Linked DNA regions of Homo sapiens: region 2 is linked to region 1. The links come from fine-mapping of genetic effects on gene expression. A gene starts in region 1. The other region holds a variant in brackets. All regions are shown on one strand. Distances are from middle to middle.

The links.
Region 2: its variant is fine-mapped to the expression of LAMC3 in whole blood (TOPMed, PIP above 0.99). The same link has a PIP of 0.9 or more in blood mononuclear cells.

The regions. Positions count from the first base shown.
Region 1 is chr9:131,003,151-131,014,003 of GRCh38, forward strand. LAMC3 (laminin subunit gamma 3) reads left to right here and starts at 6,024. Exons shown (of 28, transcript NM_006059.4): 1 at 6,024-6,437. The coding sequence starts at 6,065. RefSeq lists enhancers at 9,083-9,651, 9,652-10,219, 10,220-10,787.
Region 2 is chr9:131,041,934-131,049,933 of GRCh38, forward strand. It overlaps LAMC3 (laminin subunit gamma 3), which reads left to right. Exons shown (of 28, transcript NM_006059.4): 8 at 3,591-3,727; 9 at 7,087-7,197. Among named protein-coding and RNA genes, the nearest start is that of LAMC3, 37 kb to the left of the region's middle. The variant G/GA (reference allele first, on the strand shown) is at 3,463.

The DNA of each region.
Region 1 (10,853 bases):
CAGGAGTTTGAGACCAGCCTGGCCAACACAGTGAAACCCCATCTCGGCCGGGCACGGTGGCTTACGCCTGTAATCCCAGCACTTTGGGAGGCCGAGGTGGGCAGATCACAAGGTCAGGAGATCGAGACCATCCTGGCTAACACGATGAAACCCCGTCTCTACTAAAAAAAAAAATACAAAAAGTTAGCCGGGCGTGGTGGCGGGCGCCTGTAGTCCCAGCTACTCGGGAGGCTGAGGCAGGAGAACGGCATGAACCCAGGAGGTGGAGCTTGCAGTGAGCCGAGATCGTGCCACTGCACTCCAGCCTGGGCGACAGAGCAAGACTCTGTCTCAAAAAAAGGAAACTCCATCTCTACCAAAAATACACAATTTAGCTGGATGTGATGGCGCCTTTAGTCCCAGCTACTCAGGAGGCTAAGGTGGGAGAATCACTTGAACCTGGGAGGCAGAGGCTGCAGTGAGCCGAGATCATGCCACTGCACTCCAGCCTGGGCAACAGAGTGAGACTCTATCTCAAAAAAATATGTATATGCTATAAAAGATTAAAAATGGTATACCCATATAGGGCACTTACCATAAATGGAGCTTGCAGGACTGGAAGTTGCTCTGGGGAGTCAGTGAGCGAGTGGTGAGCGAATGTGAAGGCCTAGGATGTTACTGTACACTACTGTAGACTTTATGAACATTGTACACTTAAGCTACATTAAATTTATTTAAAAATATAAGGTATTCGTGCTACGATATTATGATGGCTATGACATCACTGGACAATAGGAATTTTTCAGCTCCATTGTAATCTTAGGTGGTCCATCACTGAACAAAATGTCATTATGTAGCATATGACTATATATATAAAGTTAGCACTATTAGCCAATCCCTGCAAACTTCTTTGGGGGATAATCCTGCTGCATCCTTAGCAGGCTCAGAACTTCCCCAGTCAGGCCATGCTGGACTTTTCCCTAGTTGCTGGACCTCTGGCCAAGAGGGGAGGTGGGCAAGGACCATCTTATAGGAGAAGGGCGAGGATGGCCTTATAGACACCTGCCTCATTTGAGGCTCCTGCAAACTCTTCAAGCAGTGGTGGGGTGGTGGGCACTATCTTCTAGAAAAGCGGAGTGGATCCCTTCTTCAGGCCCAGAGTGTTAAAGGAATCTAGAGATTCAGGGTTCTCAGTGAATCTGTCCAGATACCCACCCTAAGTCTCAAGGTCCCACTTCTTCCCTATCCGGACCCTGATTGTGATTCAGGATGCTTTCCAGGGATGGGAAATCAATCTCCTCTGGAGTCCAGTGCAACTTACAATCAGATCCTGAGCCTAGTTTTCAGCTCGGTCTGCCCCGTGTGGTTTGTTTGTTTGTTCGTTTGTTTGTTTTTTGAGATGGAGTCTCACTGTGTCACCCAGGCGGGAGTACAGTGGCGCCATCTTGGCTCACGGCAGCCTCTGCCTCCCGGGTTCAAGTGATTCTAGTGCCTCAGCCTCTGGAGTAGCTGAAACTATAGGTGCAAGCGCCAGGCCCGGCTAATTATTATATTTTTAGTTAGAGACAGGGATTCATATGTTGGCCAAGCCGGTCTCAAACTCCTGATCTCAAGTGATCCACCTGACTGGGCCTCCCAAAGTGCTGGGATTACAGGCGTGAGCCACCATGCCCCACCAGGTCTTTTTTTTTTTTTTTCTAATTGTTGCCAACAAGGGCCTCTGGCTTTCTAAATTTGTTTTGGATTGGTCCAAGATCACCCTGACCTGGTCATTTTCCCTCTTCAAGGTATCAGTGACATTCAGCAAGGGCCACCCAATCCCACAGTCTCTATAATCACTATTCCCTACTCTCAAGCACCAGAGATTGGATGAACCATCGTCTCCTTCCACCTGTACCTTGGTCAAGTTCACTGTAGGTGAAAGTCTTATTGCTTGTACTGTTACTGCATGCTGCGAACTACAAATACTTCACCTAGCTGTAGTGATACCAGCCGGGTGTTACTGTAAAAAGTAAAGTAGAGGTTCCTCTTCAAAGAGACTCTCCTCCCCATCTAATTAAGAATAAATGGTAACTTCTCTCAGAAGCAAAATTTATTCAAAGACCTGTGCTAACATTCTTAAATATCTGCTAGCCGTAATAAAGAAATCAATGTACTTTATGTTCTTAGCTCCCACAATTTAGCCTAAATATTTGCCCTGGCATGCTTATACTGGTCCAAGCAGGCATTAGGTCATAACCTATTCCTCTTCCTTACTTAGAAGTGTTTTTACCTTTCTCAGCACTCCACAAATTTCTTCCTCCTTCCTTTGTTCTCCTCCACCTTTGCCTCTTTTAAAAAGTTCTAAGTTGCTAGCCAATCAGGACAAATACAGAATGTGAAGTCCCGTTCCAGCCAATGGAAACTGGACACAGCAGTAAAGTAGACGTGTCAGGTTATAAATGACCCTGTCTCCTTTGTTCAGTGTACTCTAGTGGCAAAACTGCTGGCGAGTGTACCCTTTCTGCACAAAGTAAAAATAGCCTTGCTGAAGAAATTAAATTTATGTTCAAGTGGTATTTCTTTATGGCACCGAGGAACAAGCATTTCTAACATTATCATGGACACTTTATGACTTTCCTGGACCCTGGGCAGTTTTGCCTTAGCGGGCTCCTTTATTTATTAAAAAATATTAAAAATTCTATTTTACCGAGGGGAGAAGGTTATAGAGAGTTATTGTTTAAGAGGACAGAGTTTCAGTTTTGCAAGATAAAAAGTTCTGGAGGCCGTGTGCAGTGGCCCACGTCTGTAATCTCAGCACTTTGGGAGGCTGAGGCAGGAGGATCACTTGAGGTCAGGAGTTCGAGACCAGCCTGGCCAACATAGTGAAACCCAGTCTCTAAAATAAAAAAATTAGCTGGGCATGGTGGCAGGTGCCTGTAATCCCAGCTACCAGGGAGGCTGAGGCAGGAGAATTGCCTGAACCTGGGAGGCAGAGGTTGCAGTGAGCCAAGATGGCGCCACTGCACTCTAGCTTAGGTGACAGAGCAAGACTCCATCTCAAAAAAAAAAAAAAAAAGGTCTGGAGATGGATGGTGGTGATGGTTGCACAACAATGTGAATGTGCTTAATATTATTTAATTGTAACTTAAAAGTGGTTAAGATCGTAAATTTTATAAATATGTTATATGTATTTTACCACAATTATAATTTTTTTTTTTTTTTTTGAGACAGGGCCTCCCTCTGTCACCCAGGCTGGAGTGCAGTGGCGTGATCTTGGCTCACTGCAACCTTCGCCCCCTGGGCTCAAGCAATTCTCCCACCTCAGCCTCCCAAGCAGCTGGGACCACAGGTGTATGCCACCATGCCCGGGTAATTTTTTGTATTTTTAGTAGAGACGAGGTCTCACCATGTTGCCCAGCCTGGCCTCAAACTCCTGAGCTCCAGCGATCTACCCGCCTTAGCCTCCCAATGTGCTGGGATCACAGGTATGAGCCACCGTGCCTGGCACTAACATTTTTAAAAATTATATTTAACCATTGCATTGATCTAAAGACGGGTATATTAATATCATACGTTAAAACATGTTCTTCAGCCTAAAAGTTCTTTTTTTTCTTCTGACTTTAAAGATATTAGAACAGTTTTTGTGGGTTCCTAGAATTCCTGTGGGCTGCCATGTTTCCTGTGCCTGATAGATGAATTTGCTTTGGATGGGTGCACAGCCCAGCTCAGGGTAGCTGCGTGGACCATCAAGAGTCTGCTGCAATCATGTTCTTGACCATAAGAGAAAACTTTAACAAAGAAGCTTCCATAACACCATCAAAAAAACAATTTGGAATTACATTAAATGATATTTTAACTTGGGGAGAATTTGTATATTTAAACAGTTGGAAATCCGTGAATATAGATGCTGGTCTCTTCAGGTTTTCTGTCTCTCAGTAGCATTTTATAATTTGATTCATTTATATCTTGCACATTTCATACCAGATTTATTATTAGGTGTTCTACCATTTCCTACATCATTGCTGGCATCAGTTTTTTGTTTGTTTTGTTTTGTTTTTGTTTTGTTTTTTAAAAAACAGGGTCTTGCTCTATTGCATAGGCTGGAGTGCATTTGCGTGACCTCGGCTCACTGCAACCTCTGTCTCCTGAATTCAAGCGATTCTTGTGCCTCAGCCTTCCAAGTAGCTGGGATTACAGGTGTGCCACAATGCCTGGCTAATTTTTGTATTTTTAGTGGAGATGGGGTTTCACCATATTGCCCAGGCTGGTCTCGAACTCATGACCTCAGGTGATCTGCCTGCCTCAGCCTCCCAAAGTGCTGGGATTACAGGCGTGAGCCACCGCACCCAGCCAGAAAATGCCTATTGCTGGCATTGGTTTTCGTACTCTATCCTGTAGTCAGCCATCTTACGGAGCTCTTATTAATTTTAATAGTCTTAGTAGAATCTTTTAGATTTTCTAGATGTATGTTCAGGTAAGTAGAAGATATAAATATTTATATCTTTTAAGTTTTTTGTCTTATTGTATTAGCTAGAACTTCCAAAATAACCTTAGGTACCAGTGGTGATATCATATACTAACTCTACTTAGATATAGTTCTGAAATCTCTAACTTATTCCATGGGTCTATTCTGTAGTCCTTTCCACAACCGTATTGTTTTAATCATGTGTAAATAACTGGTAGTGAATCAGCCCACTACAGTTCATCTTGCTTCCAAAAATTTTCTTTCTTTCTTTTCTTTCTTTTTTTTTTTTTTGATGGAGTTTCTCTCTTGTTGCCCAGGCTGGAGTGCAATGGCATGATCTCAGTTCACTGCAACTTCTGCCCCCCGGGTTCAAACAATTCTCCTGCCTCAGCCTCCTGAGTAGCTGGGATTACAGGCACGCACCGCCACACCCAGCTAATTTTTGTGTTTTTAGTAGAGACGGGGTTTCACTATGTTGGCCAGGCTGGTCTCGAACTCCTGACCTCAGGTGATCTGCCTTCCTCAACTTCCCAAAATGCTGGGATTATAGGCGAGAGCCACCGCGCCAGGCCAGGAAATTTATTTCTATTTTCCTTAGAGTTCGTCTGGGAATGGCTGCCTTTTTTTTTTTTTTTTTTTCGAGACAGGGTCTGACTCTGTTGGCCAGGCTGGAGTGCAATGGCATGATCACAGCCCACTGCAGCCTAACCTCCCGGGCTCAAGGGATCCTTCCACCTCAGCCTCCCAGGTAGCTGGGACTACAGGCTTGTGCCATGACGCCGGGCTAATTTTTGTATTTTTTTGTAGAGATAGGGTCTCACTATTTTGCCCAGGTTGGTCTCGAACTCCTGGCCTCAAGTTATCCTTCCGCCTCCACCTCCCAAAGTGCTAGGATTACAGGCGTGAGCCACCGCGCACGACCTGGCTGCTAAATTTTATCGAATGACTTCTCTCCCTCGATTTGCTAATGTTAATAAATGGGGAGTAAAGGGGGCATTTATGGGGGTTGGGGCAGAAGACAAGGAAGCCCTCTCTGAGGTGACATTTGTGATAAGACCAGGTACCCTTGTCACAAATGTCAGGTTAGAATCTCTTTGCTGTGGGGACAGAGCGCAGCCGGCAGCAGGAGTGCTTTTCAGGGTTAAGGGCGACAGGAGCTATGCGGAGCCATCTCACAACCCTGTCCAGGGCACACTTTATTGCTAGGAGGAGATGCGCAAACGGTAGCGATCAGTTAGAGATAGATCCTCTTGTCCCCTTTTATCTCAGGACTCCAAGGCACTGCTGAACAGTTTCTGTTTAATGAGCAGCCATTGAAGCCTCCCAATGGCGAGAATGAGCCTGCATCTTTACCGACCCCACTCCACAGACGAGGAAACTGAGGCTCAAAGAGGCCCGGGTCGCCTCTGGGGCAGACTCCCGAGCCGCGCACTGCCGGGCACGTCCAGCAGGTGGGAGTGGGCGCCCGGGGACGGCGCGGTCCCTGGTATTTTTAGTGGGGTGGGGCCGCCGCCGCCCGCCCCTCCCTCCAGCCTCCCCGCCCCGCAGGGGAAGGCGGGTCCTGGCGGCCAGCGCGCGGTCCGCGCCCACCCTAGCCGAGCGGGGCCGGCAGAGCGCGCGGCGTCGGTGCCCTTGACCATGGCGGCGGCTGCGCTTCTGCTGGGGCTGGCGCTGCTGGCACCGCGGGCGGCCGGCGCGGGCATGGGCGCGTGCTATGACGGCGCAGGGCGCCCGCAGCGCTGCCTGCCGGTGTTCGAGAACGCGGCGTTTGGGCGGCTCGCCCAGGCCTCGCACACGTGCGGCAGCCCGCCCGAGGACTTCTGTCCCCACGTGGGCGCCGCGGGCGCGGGGGCTCATTGCCAGCGCTGCGACGCCGCCGACCCCCAGCGCCACCACAACGCCTCCTACCTCACCGACTTCCACAGCCAGGACGAGAGCACCTGGTGGCAGAGCCCGTCCATGGCCTTCGGCGTGCAGTACCCCACCTCGGTCAACATCACCCTCCGCCTAGGTAAGCGCGGGCTGGGGGCACCGCCACCGCACCCCGTGTCCCCACTCCACTGGGGGTCTGAGGCTGAGGCCTGAGCTGCTGTGCGCCCAGGTTGGGCTGCAGGACCCAGATATGGTGTTGGATGGAGGGGCTCAGAAATAGGAATTAGGCTGGGTGCGGTGGCTCACTCCTGAAATCCCAGCACTTTGGGAGGCCGAGATGGGAGGGTCGCTTGAGCCCAGGAGTTCAAGATCAGCCTGGGCAACGTAGTGAGATCCCATCTTTACAAAAAATAAAGAAAAATAGGCCGGGCGCGGTGGCTGACGTCTGTAATCCCAGCACTTTGGGAGGCCGAGGCGGGCGGATCACCTGAGGTCAGGAGTTCGAGACCAGCCTGGCCAACATGGTGAAAACCCGTCTCTACTAAAAATAGAAAATTTGGCCGGGCGTGGTGGTAGGTGCCTGTAGTTCCAGCTACTCAGGAGGCTGGGGCAGGAGAATCGCTTGAACCCGGGAGGTGGAGGTTGCCGTGAGCCGAGGTCGCACCACCGTTCTCCAGCCTGGGCAACAGAGCTAACTCCGTCTCAAAAAAAAAAAAAAAAAAAAAAAAAAGCTGGGCGTGGTGGTGCACACCTATGGTCCCAGCTACTCAAGAGGCTGAGGCAGGAGGATCACTTAAGACTGAGAGGTTGAGGCTGCATGAAATATGATAGTGCCACTGTGCTACAGCCTGGGCTACAGAGTGAGACCTTATCTCTTAATAAAAAGAAAGAATGAAAAAAAGAAGAAAAAAAAACAGGACCTGTACCCCTAGATAGCCAGAAGGATAGACTGAGGGGTGCCCCGTGGGGCGGGAGAGGCAGGGAGTCACTTGCTGAGCTTTGGTTCTAGGTTGCAATTATAATCCCCTGTAATGGTTTTCCATCCTAGACCAGAACTGTTGGGGAGGTGACACACCAAGGACTGAATTGGTCACCCTCTAGGGCAGGGGCTCCTGATCTTGGGTCTTCTGGTCAACTTCAGGTATTCAGTGGACCCCTGAAGCTGCCTGCAGTCCTCGGGTGGGTTCTGGAAGATAGAAGCTGTGATGTTCATCACTGCACAGGCAAAGTTTAACCCTCTGGGGAGGAGGACTAAGTTTCTTCGTGCTGCTGGGCAGCTGCGCCCGGTGGCATGGCCTCTCTGCCCTGCTCATGACTTGCCGAGGTGCAGAAGCCCTTAGATCTCCAGGAATCAGAATCTGGAGTCTGGACCCAGCCCCGGTTCTCAGCCCCTGCCCCCACTGCAGGGAGCTGGAATGCTCTCTCCTCCCTCCGTGTTCAGCCCGATTCCCATGTCCTCTGTGGCCGGGTAAGCGCCAAGTGTCTTTCCTGTTGCAGCCTCCACTGCCCTTTCAGGAGGGGCTGGTATCACTGGTTAGACTCCCTTATCTTCGAGGTCAGCCTCCCAAAGCTTTGAAAACTCAAATTATTTTTATAACTCATTTTTGCTGCTAAACCTGACCTGAGGCTATTTATAAGCTATGTTTATGCTAGTGAGAATGAATATTCATTCGCTTTGCTACTGAAATCTCATTTGAGTACAGCCGGCAGCCCCAGACCCCACTGGGGGTATTAGCACAATATATGGTATAAGGCCTGCATCGTCTTTCTAAAAGCTGAAAAATGTTCAATTCCCAAACACATTTGGAGCCTAGGAGTTTGGATTAGGGATGATGGGACTGTATCCCATGTTTCAGCTGAGAAAATTGAGGCTCAGAGAGGTTGTTTTGCCCAAAGGCACAGAGCTGCTAAGTGAGCATCTGAGCGTGGACATCCATGGACATCAGAGGTCAGAGCATAAACTCTTTGATGTGAGTTCCGCCACCCATCAACTGAGTCAGCTCCACCTCAGCCTGGTGACAGTGTCCTGGGGAGGGCTGGGAAGTGACATTGGAGTGGGGTGCGGGGAGGACCGTGAGCCCGCTCTGCAGAGCACACAGGTACTGGCTGCCACCTCAGAAACTCCCTTCTTCTGGGGCCACGTCACCTTCTCTCAGCCTATCTGGATCACTAGGTGGGGCTTCTGAATGGGACGAGGGGGAGGGGACAGGAAGCCAGTGGGGAGGGGGGAGGCTGGGGGAGCTGTCTGGATGGAGCTGGCAGGACCCCAAGGCCACAGGGGAAGGAATCTGGGACAGGGTGGGGAGTTGTTGGGGAGACACAGTGCTCCATGACAAAGGGTATCACATGTGTCCTGGGAACCCAGGGGCCAAGGAAAGAGCTCAGCCCAGGCACAAACAAGGTGGGAGGAAGTTGGGAGAAATGGCCAAGTTTTTGGATTTGAGGTAGTTCCTGTTTACTGTGCATCTACTGTGTGCCAGGCCCTGTGCTGAGCTGTGCACCCTCGTGGAACTCTGCCTAGAACCTTAGAAGCAGAGTGGTTCTGATCCTTCTAAAAGCAAGGAACCTGAGAGCCTCCACACTGTGAATGTAGAGAGCGAACACACACACACATACACACACACACACACACACACACACACACTCCCTGCTGTGTCTTATCCCGGTGAGCATTCTTCCTGTTTTGTCGCCGAAAACCAGGCATATAGGAGAGAGTCCACAAGTGTGAGTGACAGGGTCACCTCCTCTGTCCTGTGCTCTGGGGCCAGCTCAGCATTCTCTTTTGCCTGCTCTGGGAGGCAGAATAGGATAGAAATCACGAAAGGAGGCTTTGGACTTAGGCCCAGCAGAGCCACTCACTGGGCAAGCGGAGTCCCCTCTCTCAGCCTCAGTTTCCTTACCTGTACCGTACGGATAAGAGTCGCCACTTCCTGAGCAGCTGTTCGGGTTCATGAGCCCGGGTCGGAGCCATGGCAGTCCCTGTGTGTGACCAGCGTGGCTGCTGAGACAGCTCAGGGCTGAGGCTCCCTTGCGGGGATTGAGAAATGCTCGTCCCGGCCGCCCTGCCTCCTCAAAGACATCCTGACGCTGGTCTCTGTTTACGCACAAGGGGCGCCGGGGGCCCAGCGCAGCCCCAGATTTGGCCTCTTTTTGGTTTCCTATGACTTAGGTTTGCTCCAGGCTAAGCCATGGCTTGCATAATAGCGGGGGAAGGAGAGGCCTGGGATTGTCGGTGTCCCCTGTGGAGGCCGTCTGATGACCTCTCCTCCTGGTCCTTAGGCCACCTCTGCTGGCTCTGTCCCCCCACTGCTCCCTCTCCTTGAAGGCTCATGGGAAGGGAGAGTGGGCGGCCAGCTCTGGCCCGGGGTCTCCTAGAGGGAATGGGGTGAGGGGCAGGGAAGGAGATGGAGGTCGCCGCATTCCCAGCCCCCCGTGGCTCCTGGACATCTGTTCCGGATCCTCCCGTCATCTCTGAGCTGAGCCTTCCTGTCTGGGATGAAAGGCAGCAGTGGGCTCTGGCAGCCCCAGCCCACCACCAAGGCCCAGGGAGGCCACGGGGCTGGGGCCTGGGAGTCAGTGGGGTGTTGGGGGAGTGGACAGTGACGGGGGTACAGACCATTCCGGGGCTCTCACCGTGTACCAAGGACTCGCCCAGGCGGCATCCCAAACCGGCATGCTTTGTTCTTTTACAGACAGCAAAACTGAGGCACTGAGGGTGAGATCAGTTGCTTGGGGTCGCACAACTCAATAAATGGTGGCCCCCGGGACCCTCCCCCTAACTGCTGTACTTGGGAATGAAGAGGGTCCAGGCTAGGCTGGTCCACATGCTTGAAGCCTCGGTCCTGGGAGGAACAGTATGGGCTGTGGCTTTCGGTGGGCTGGGGGAGTCTCCTCCCGGCTTGCACTTGGATCGCTGAGAATCTCCTGGAACCACAAAAAGACCTGAGTCCCCCAAGCAGATGAGTTCTGCCCTCCCTCCCCCGCAGGTCCCGGATGTCCCTGCATGGAGTTGACTTCTTCTTGCTTTCATTTAGCCGTTTGCTTGGTGGTCACCCAGCCTTGGCTCACTGGCCACAGGATGCAGCTGTGAACAGGGCCATGTGCGGCCCCTGTCCTGAGGGGCTCAGGGCCCACCAGAAGGCAGCCTTTACTGAGCAGTGCTGAGAACGAGGATGTATGCTCAGAACATGCACTGGTGCGCACGAGCCTCATCTCTAGGGTCAGGAAGGGTCTCGCTGAGACCTGAAGGATGGTAGGAGCTGACCAAAGAGGGAAGGATGTTCTTCGACCTGCCGGGCCTGGATGGCCTGAGTGCAGACACCGAGAAGACGCTGGGGTCTGGCCAGCCACAGCGAGGAGCCGGGTCCCAGGGTGCTGGACATTAGGGGGACCCTGTGGCCCCTGAGGGGTCCTGGAGCCAGCTGGGTCTCCTGAGCCTTGGCTCCGTTCTGTCTTCCTGTCGAGTGGGCGGCTGCGATTGCCTTGGCCTGGGCCAGTGCTGGGGGCCAAGTCCTCCCTCCTGCTCCCTGGGGGTTCTGGCTGGAACGCTGGGCCC
Region 2 (8,000 bases), 37 kb after region 1:
GTGCTTTGATTCAACACCACTGATCATTCATAAGCTGAGAAAATACATGTCTTAGCTTAGAATCCTGAAAAGAAAGAACTGGAATGATAGGAGAGACCATCTAATCCAGGGATAGTAAATAGATGGTGCTCGTACTACCACCTGCTGTGGCAGACATCGCTAATGGAGCACTATCACAGGCCTCCCGTTTCACACTCACTGCAGACATAGCTAATGGAGCACTATCACAGGCCTCCCGTTTCACACCCACAGCAGACATCACTCATGGAGTATTATCAACGCTCCCCTTTCACACCCATGACAGACACCACTAACGGAGCACTATCACAACCCTTTCACACCCACGGCAGACCTATCACAGCCCTCCCTTTTCACACTCAATAGACATTACTCATGCAGCACTGTCAATACACCCCTTTCACACCCACAGCAGACATCACTAATGGTATACCCATGGTACACATCACTAAGGGAGCACTATCACAGTCTTCCCCTTTCTTACCCACAGCAGATATCACTAATGGAGCACTATCACAACCCTCCCTTTTCACACTCACGGCCAACATCACTCATGGAGCATTGTCAATGCACCCCTTTCACACCCACAGCAGACATCACTAATGGTATAACCATGGCAAACATCACTAATGGAGAACTATCACAGCCTCCCCCTTTCATACCCACAGCAGGCATCACTAATGGAGCACTATCAACCCTTGCCTTTCACAGCCATGGCAGACATCACTAATGGTGCCATATCAAACTTTCCCTTTCATAGCCATGGCAGGCATCACTAATGAAGCACTACTACAACCCTTCTTTTTCACACCCATAGCAGACATCATTCATGGAGCACTGTCAACACACCCCTTTCACACCCACAACAGACATCACTAATGGCATACCCATGGCAGACATCACTAAGGGAGCACTATCACAACCCTCCCCTTTCATACCCACAGCAGACATCACTAATGGAGCACCATCAACTCTCCCCTTTCACACCATGGCAGACATCACTGATGGCATACCCATGGCAGACATCACTAAGGCAACACTATCACAACCCTCCCCTTTCACACCCACAACAGACATCACTAATGGGGCACAGCAGTCTTGGCCATGAGCCCTACTATAACCTCAGGATCCTTCTTAACACCCTGCTTCAGGAAGCCCCTACCCACTGAGCTGGATTTTGAGCCTGTTTGCCATCTTTGCAGTCTGATCATGGTACAAATGGGGCATCTGAAGCTCTGCAAGTCAAAGGGGCTCTCCCAAGGCCAGGAAGTACATAAACTTCCTCTTTCAAGTGTTCAAGAGGCCTCCAAGCTCCAGCAGTGCGGCCAGCAGACAAACATGGGTTTAGCTCCTTGGGTACACACTATCTCTTCTTCCTGGCTTTGTGTCTGACATTCACCAGAGCTGCTTGGAGAAGTGGCAGATTCTGGGGCTGGGGCTGGAAAAAGACAAGATAAGCCCAAGGCGTCTTACAGTGCCAGGAAGCAAGGAAATGCTGAAAAACAGAGACAGACACAAACAAAACAGCCCAAACCAGAACGTGGGCCCATGTCAAAAGGACACAGGAGCCGACGTGAAAGAGCTCTCAGGGCTGAAACAATTTGAGCAACAAAATAAACGATAGTATTGGATTATAACCCAGAGAATAAAGTCAAATCCACGAATCCATACTGATGTAAATAGATGATTGAATACATAAATAGATGGGCATGAAGAGACAAACCTTCCTTGCAGAAGAATTCCAAGTAATGAATGTAGAAATGAAGGAACTGGAAAACCACTGTTCAGACCTCACAGTGGTAATTGCTACAGGCAAGAGCTGCCGATGAATGCTGACATTGGTGGGCAGAACTTTAAGGAAAGAGAGGATATTTGCATAACCTCAAAATATCTATTAATTACTGGGGTGGCTTTAACATCTGTCCGTGGGTTCTTTGATACTCTTCCTCTAGGAGGTCGAGCTTAATCCCCCTCTTTTTGAGACTGGGCTGCATTTAGTGACTTGCTGCTTTTTTTTTTTTTTTTGAGACGGAGTTTCGCTCTTTTGCTCAGGCTGGAGTGAAGTGGTATGATCTCGGCTCACTGCAACCTCTGTCTCCCGGGTTCAAGCGATTCTCCTGCCTCAGCCTCCTAAGTAGCTAGGATTATAGGCACCCACCACCACGCCTGGCTAATTTTTGTATTTTTAGTAGAGATGGGGTTTCACCATGTTGGTCAGGCTGATCTCGAACTGACCTCAGGTGATCCACCCACCTCGGCCTCCCAAAGTGCGTGAGCCGGCCAGGCGCGGTGGCTCATGCCTGTAATCCCAGCACTTTGGGAGGCCGAGGTGGATGGATCACGAGGTCAGGAGTTCAAGACCAGCCTGGCCAACATAGTGAAACCCTGTCTCTACTAAAAATACAAAAATTAGCCGGGCATGGTGGCGCACACCTGTAGTCCCAGCTACTTGGGAGGCTGAGGCAGGACAATTGTTTGAACCCGGGAGACAGAGGTTACAGTGAGCTGAAATCGTGCCACTGCACTCCAGCTTGGGCAACAGAGCGAGACTTCGTCTCAAAAAAAAATTTAAAGTGCTTGAGCCACCGCGTCCGGCCTATTCAGTGACTTGCTTCTAATGACTGGACCGTGGTGATTGCACAGTGGAGAGACTGGTAGACAGCACAGGTGATGAAAGTCAGCATCGCTTGGATGTCATGTGGGTTTCCTGTGCCCCCATGTGATATGACGAGAAGGGTACTTCACCTCTGTGTATTTCTTTCCCAAGCCTATAACTCTGGTCTAATCATGAGAAACATCAGACATTCTAAAAATACCTGATCAGTGCTTTTCAAAAAGTGTCAAGATAGTGGCAGACAAGGAAAGACTGAGAAGCGGTGATAGGTTGGAGGAGAACAAGGATACCACTAAATGCAACACCGTGTCCTGGATGGGATCCTGCAGCAGAAACCAGACATTAGAGGAAAAAGTGGAGAAATCCTATTAAAGTCGCTGGGCGCGGTGGCTCAAGCCTGAAATCCCAGTACTTTGGGAGGCTGAGGCGGGCGGATCCCCTGAGGTCAGGAGTTCGAGGTCAACCTGCCAACATGGTGAAATCCCGTTTCTACTAAAAATACAAAAATTAGCCGGGTGTGGTGGCAGGCGCCTGCAATCCCAGCTACCCGGGAGGCTGAGGCAGGAGAATCACTTGAACCCGGGAGGCGGAGGCTGCAGTGAGCCAAGATTGCACCATTGCACTCCAGCCTGGGCCACAGAACAAGACTCTGTCTCAAAAAAAAAAAAAAACAACAACAACAAAAAAACAAAACCTAATAAAGTCTGGAGTTTAGTTAACTTAGTTTTGACAAATGTACTGTGGTAATGTCAGATGTCAGCATCAGGGGAGGCTGTCTGAAGCAGGTATGGGAACAATCTGTAATGTTCTTACTACTCTTCTAGAATTCT[G/GA]AAAAAAAATTGTTTTTAAGTTTCTGCAGTGATTCTAGACTCTCATTGGTCCAGCTGGGATACCCTGGCCCCGCCCCTTCCTGGCTGATTCACGTGGCCCTCGTGGGCATGTCCTGCCTCCATTTCAGATGTCGCCCGGGGACCTTTAACCTGCAGCCCCACAATCCAGCTGGCTGCAGCAGCTGTTTCTGCTATGGCCACTCCAAGGTGTGCGCGTCCACTGCCCAGTTCCAGGTGCATCACATCCTCAGCGATTTCCACCAGGGTAAGAGATGCTCCCTGCAAACGCCTCCCAAGGGTCTGCTCCCAGCCTAGGCAGGTGATCCTGCCCTGGGGAGATCTTGCATTAGTGGATCTCCCATTGTGGAGAGGAGCCACAGGCCTGCACAGCCTAGGTGGGGTCGGGGGTGAGATGATGGCTCCCCAGTGCCCACCTGCGACCCCCAGCTCCCTCCCCAGTCCCTGACTCTTCTCTTTATACCCGTGGTGGGGTTGGGGGCCGGGTACGTGACGCTTTTTGGATCCTGTAGGGGAATTTCCCACTCACCCCGTTGAGACTGGCCTCCCTTGGTGTGTCTAAACACTGGGGATTCAGGCTCAGTCTCCTGGCCTCCACTTATTGAGCACCTGCTGTTTGCCAGGCACTGTGCTGAGCACCTAACATGCAAGGATTCTCATTCCCCTTTCAATGATGAAGTAACTGAGACCTACAAAAGGTAGGCCACTTGCCTGAGGCCACATAACAGTTGTGAGCACTGCATTTGTCAGCTCCTGAGTTTTGCTCCTTTTTTTTTTTTTTTTTTTTTTTTTTTTTGGACACAGGGTCTTGCTGAGTCACCAAGGCTGAAGTGCAGTGGTGCAAGATTGCACAGCACAGCTCACTGCAGCCACCACCTCCCTGGGCTCACGTGATCCTCCCACCTCAGCCTCCTGAGTAGCTAGGACCACAGGTGTGCACCACCGTGCCCGGCTAATTTTTATATTTTTTTCTAAAGACAGGGTTTTGCCATGTCTTTAGACCCAGGCTGGTCTCAATCTCCTGGGCTCAAGTAGTCTGCCCACCTCCGCCTCCCAAAATGCTGGGACTACAGGCGTGCACCACCATGCCGAGCTAATTTTTGTATTTTTTTTTTTTTTTTTTTTTTTTTTGTACAGACGGGGTCTTACCATGTTGCCCAGGCTGGTCTAGAACTCCTGAGCTCAGGCAATCCCGCCCACCTCGGCTTCCCAAAGTGCTGGGATTATGAGTGTCCGCGCCCAGCTGTTTTGCCCTTAACCGCTGTGGTGGCCTATACCGTGGTCCCTGACTCCAGGTGGCACAGCCGCATATTTAAAGAGGAAAGCAGCAGAGCTCGGAGCTCTGCATTAAACCAGAGGCTGCGTGGGCCCCAGCGATGTCCCACGGAGCGCCCCGCACCTTCCGCCTGTCCCCAGGAAGGAGCGAGGCATCAGCTGAAACAGAAGAACCTCAGGGCCGACGCTGGGGCGGCCCCAGACATGAGGGCCGCGCGCCCTCTGCTGGAAGCCGCGCAGAAAGCAGGACCGAGAGATGCGCGGACCGGCGCCGCGTGTCTGGGTCCTGGGTCCGGGGGTCTAGGGTGTCAGCGTTGGGCAGGACTCATTTTCTAGACCCTAAGAACAGTGTCATGATCTGTTCTCACATTGGGCCAGGCACTGGGTGTGGCCGGCCCTTCAGGGGTGTCATCTCATTTTGTCTCACAGTTGCCCTTGCGCAGGAGTTCTCAAAACTTTTTGGTCTCTGAATTCCTCTTTTTTTTTTTTTTTTTAAGACGGAGTCTCACTGTGTTGCCCAGGCTGGAGTGCAATGGCGTGATCTCAGCTCTCTGCAACCTCCGCCTCCCAGGTTCAAGTGATTTTCCTGCCTCAGCCTCCTGTGTAGCTGGGACTGCAGGCACCCACCACCACGCCCAGCTTATTTTTGTATTTTTAGTACAGGTCGGGGGTTTCACCATGTTGGTCAGGCTGGTCTTGAACTCCTGACCTCAACTGATCCACCCTCCTCAGCCTCCCAGAGTGCTGGGATTACAGGTGTGAGCCACCGCACCCGGCCTCTGGATCCCTTTATGCTCTTGAAAATTATTGAGAACCCCAAAGTGCTTTTGTTTATGTGGGTGGTTTGTATGGATATTTGCTGTCTTAGAAATGGAAACTGTGGCTGGGCGCAGTGGCTCACGCCTGTAATCCCAGCACTCTGGGAGGCCGGGGTGGGGGTGGGGGGAGCGGATCACCTGAGGTCAAGAGTTCGAGACCAGCCTGGCCAACATGACGAAACCCCGTCTCTGCTAAAAATACAAAAATTAGCCAGGCGTGGTGGCCAGCTCCTGTAATCCCAGCTACTCGGGAGGCTGAGGCAGGAGAATCGCTTGAACCTGGGAGGCAGAGGTTGCAGTGAGCCGAGATCGCGCCACTGCACTCCAGCCTGAGTGACAGGGTGAGACTCTGTCTCAAAAAAAAAGAAAACAAGTAGTTTTTAAATTTTTATTATTTTTATTTATTTTTATTTTATTTTTTTAGCAGAGACGGGGTTTGCCATGTTGACCAGGATGGTCTTGATCTCTTGACCTCATGATCCATCTGCCTCGGCCTCCCAGAGCGCTAGGATTATAGGTGTGAGCCACCACACCCAGCTGATTTTTTTTTTTTTTTTTTTTTTTTTTTGAGTCAGAGTCTTGCTCTGTCACCCAGGCTGGAGTGCAGTGGCACAATCTCAGCTCGCTGCAACCTCCGCCTCTCGGGTTCAGGCGATTCTCCTGCCTCAGCCTCCTGAGTAGCTCAGATTATAGGCAGCTGCTACCATGCCTGGCTAATTTCTGTATTTTTAGCAGAGATGGGGTTTCGCCATGTTGGCCAGGCTGGTCTCGAACTTCTGACCTCAGATGATCCACCCACCTCGGCCTCTCAGAGTGCTGGGATTACAGGCATGAGCCACTGTGCCTGGCCTTCTAGTTCCTTCTAAATGCCTGTCTGCAAACTTCTCTTCATGTTGACATCTTCCTTTCTCTGACCTCTTTCCCCACTCCGTTCCTTCCTTCTTACCCCTTGGCTGCCCCAGGTATTTGGCCTCTGCCTCATTGCCCGCTACCCCCTGGAGAGGCACCTCCTTAAGGTCACTCGCTGTGTGCTGGGCTGTGCTCCGTGTTAACTGCTGTGGCCAGAGGGAGGAGGCACTGAACTGGCACTGGGGACCAGAAGGCCTGGGCTCCCGTCGTGGCTGGGCCCCTTCCTAACCAGGTGGCCTCCTTGCCTGAGGTGCTGTTAATGACATGGGCCACTGGAAGGACAGGGTTCATGAGGTCACAGGTGAGAAAGTTCTCTGAGAACCTGAAGATGAGGTCAAGTCTGGTACTATTAGAGATGGCCCTGATGTCCCAGGGCCCCCATGTGGGGGTCTTCAGGCTGTCTTCATGCTGAGCTCAAAACCCCACTGAAAGGGCAGGGCAGGCTTCCAGGTCTGACCATGCCCCCAAGCAGATCCGGGTCCCTGAGCTTTCTAGCTTCTCCTGGGGCTCCCTCCTACCCCAGGGCCCCCACCTGGGGCTGGCACCTGGAGACCACCCTCCGGGGCCTCACACTGATCGGGGGGTGTCTGTGTTTGCTGTCTAGGAGCCGAAGGCTGGTGGGCCAGAAGTGTGGGGGGCTCTGAGCACCCCCCACAATGGAGCCCAAATGGGGTCCTCCTGAGCCCAGAAGACGAGGAGGAGCTCACAGCACCAGGTACCTCCAGCACCAGGTGGGGGCTGGCCGCCCTGTGTCGGTTCCTCCTGCTGCTAAACAACTTGCCGCATATTAGAGGCTGAAAACAATGCCAGTTTATTCTCTTAGAGTTCTGGAGAAGTCAGAAATAGGTCTCTCGGAGCTAACATCAAGGTGTCAGCAGGGCTGAGTTCCTTCTGGAGGCCCATGGGAAAGTCCCTTCCTTGCCTTTCCCAGCCTCTAGAAGCCGCCTGCATTCCTGGGCTCATGGCCTCTTCCTCCATCTTCAAAGCAGCTGAGTTTTTCTCACGCCCCATCACTGGCACCAACTCCCCTGCCTCCCTCTTGTGTATTTGCCATTAATCTCTAATGATTGATGGGGCCCAGCTGGATAACCCAAGAGGCTCTTCCTACCTCAGGTCAGCTGATTAACAACCTTAATGTCCCCTGCCACAGAACACACCATATTTATGGATTCCAGGGATTAGAATGTGGATGCCTTGGGAAGGCTGTTATTCTGCCATCAGACCACCGTATCTGATGAAACCCCCGTTTTTCTGGTCATAGCTTTGTCATGGAGGGCTTCTTCAGTGCCACAGGGCCATAGCCACTGTCATGGCCCAGAGAATCTGTGTTTCCCATCAGCCCCTCACCCGCCAGGCCACTGCACCCTAAGCCCAGGGCCATGGCATTCTTGCAAAAGGAAGGAGGTTCTTGATCATTCTGACCTCTCCACCCCACAGTGAGGGGAACTGTGGTCTCCTGGCGACTGTCTCAGCCCCAGAACCCAGAGCCTAGAGCCCATCTTTAGCCCCACTGTGGCT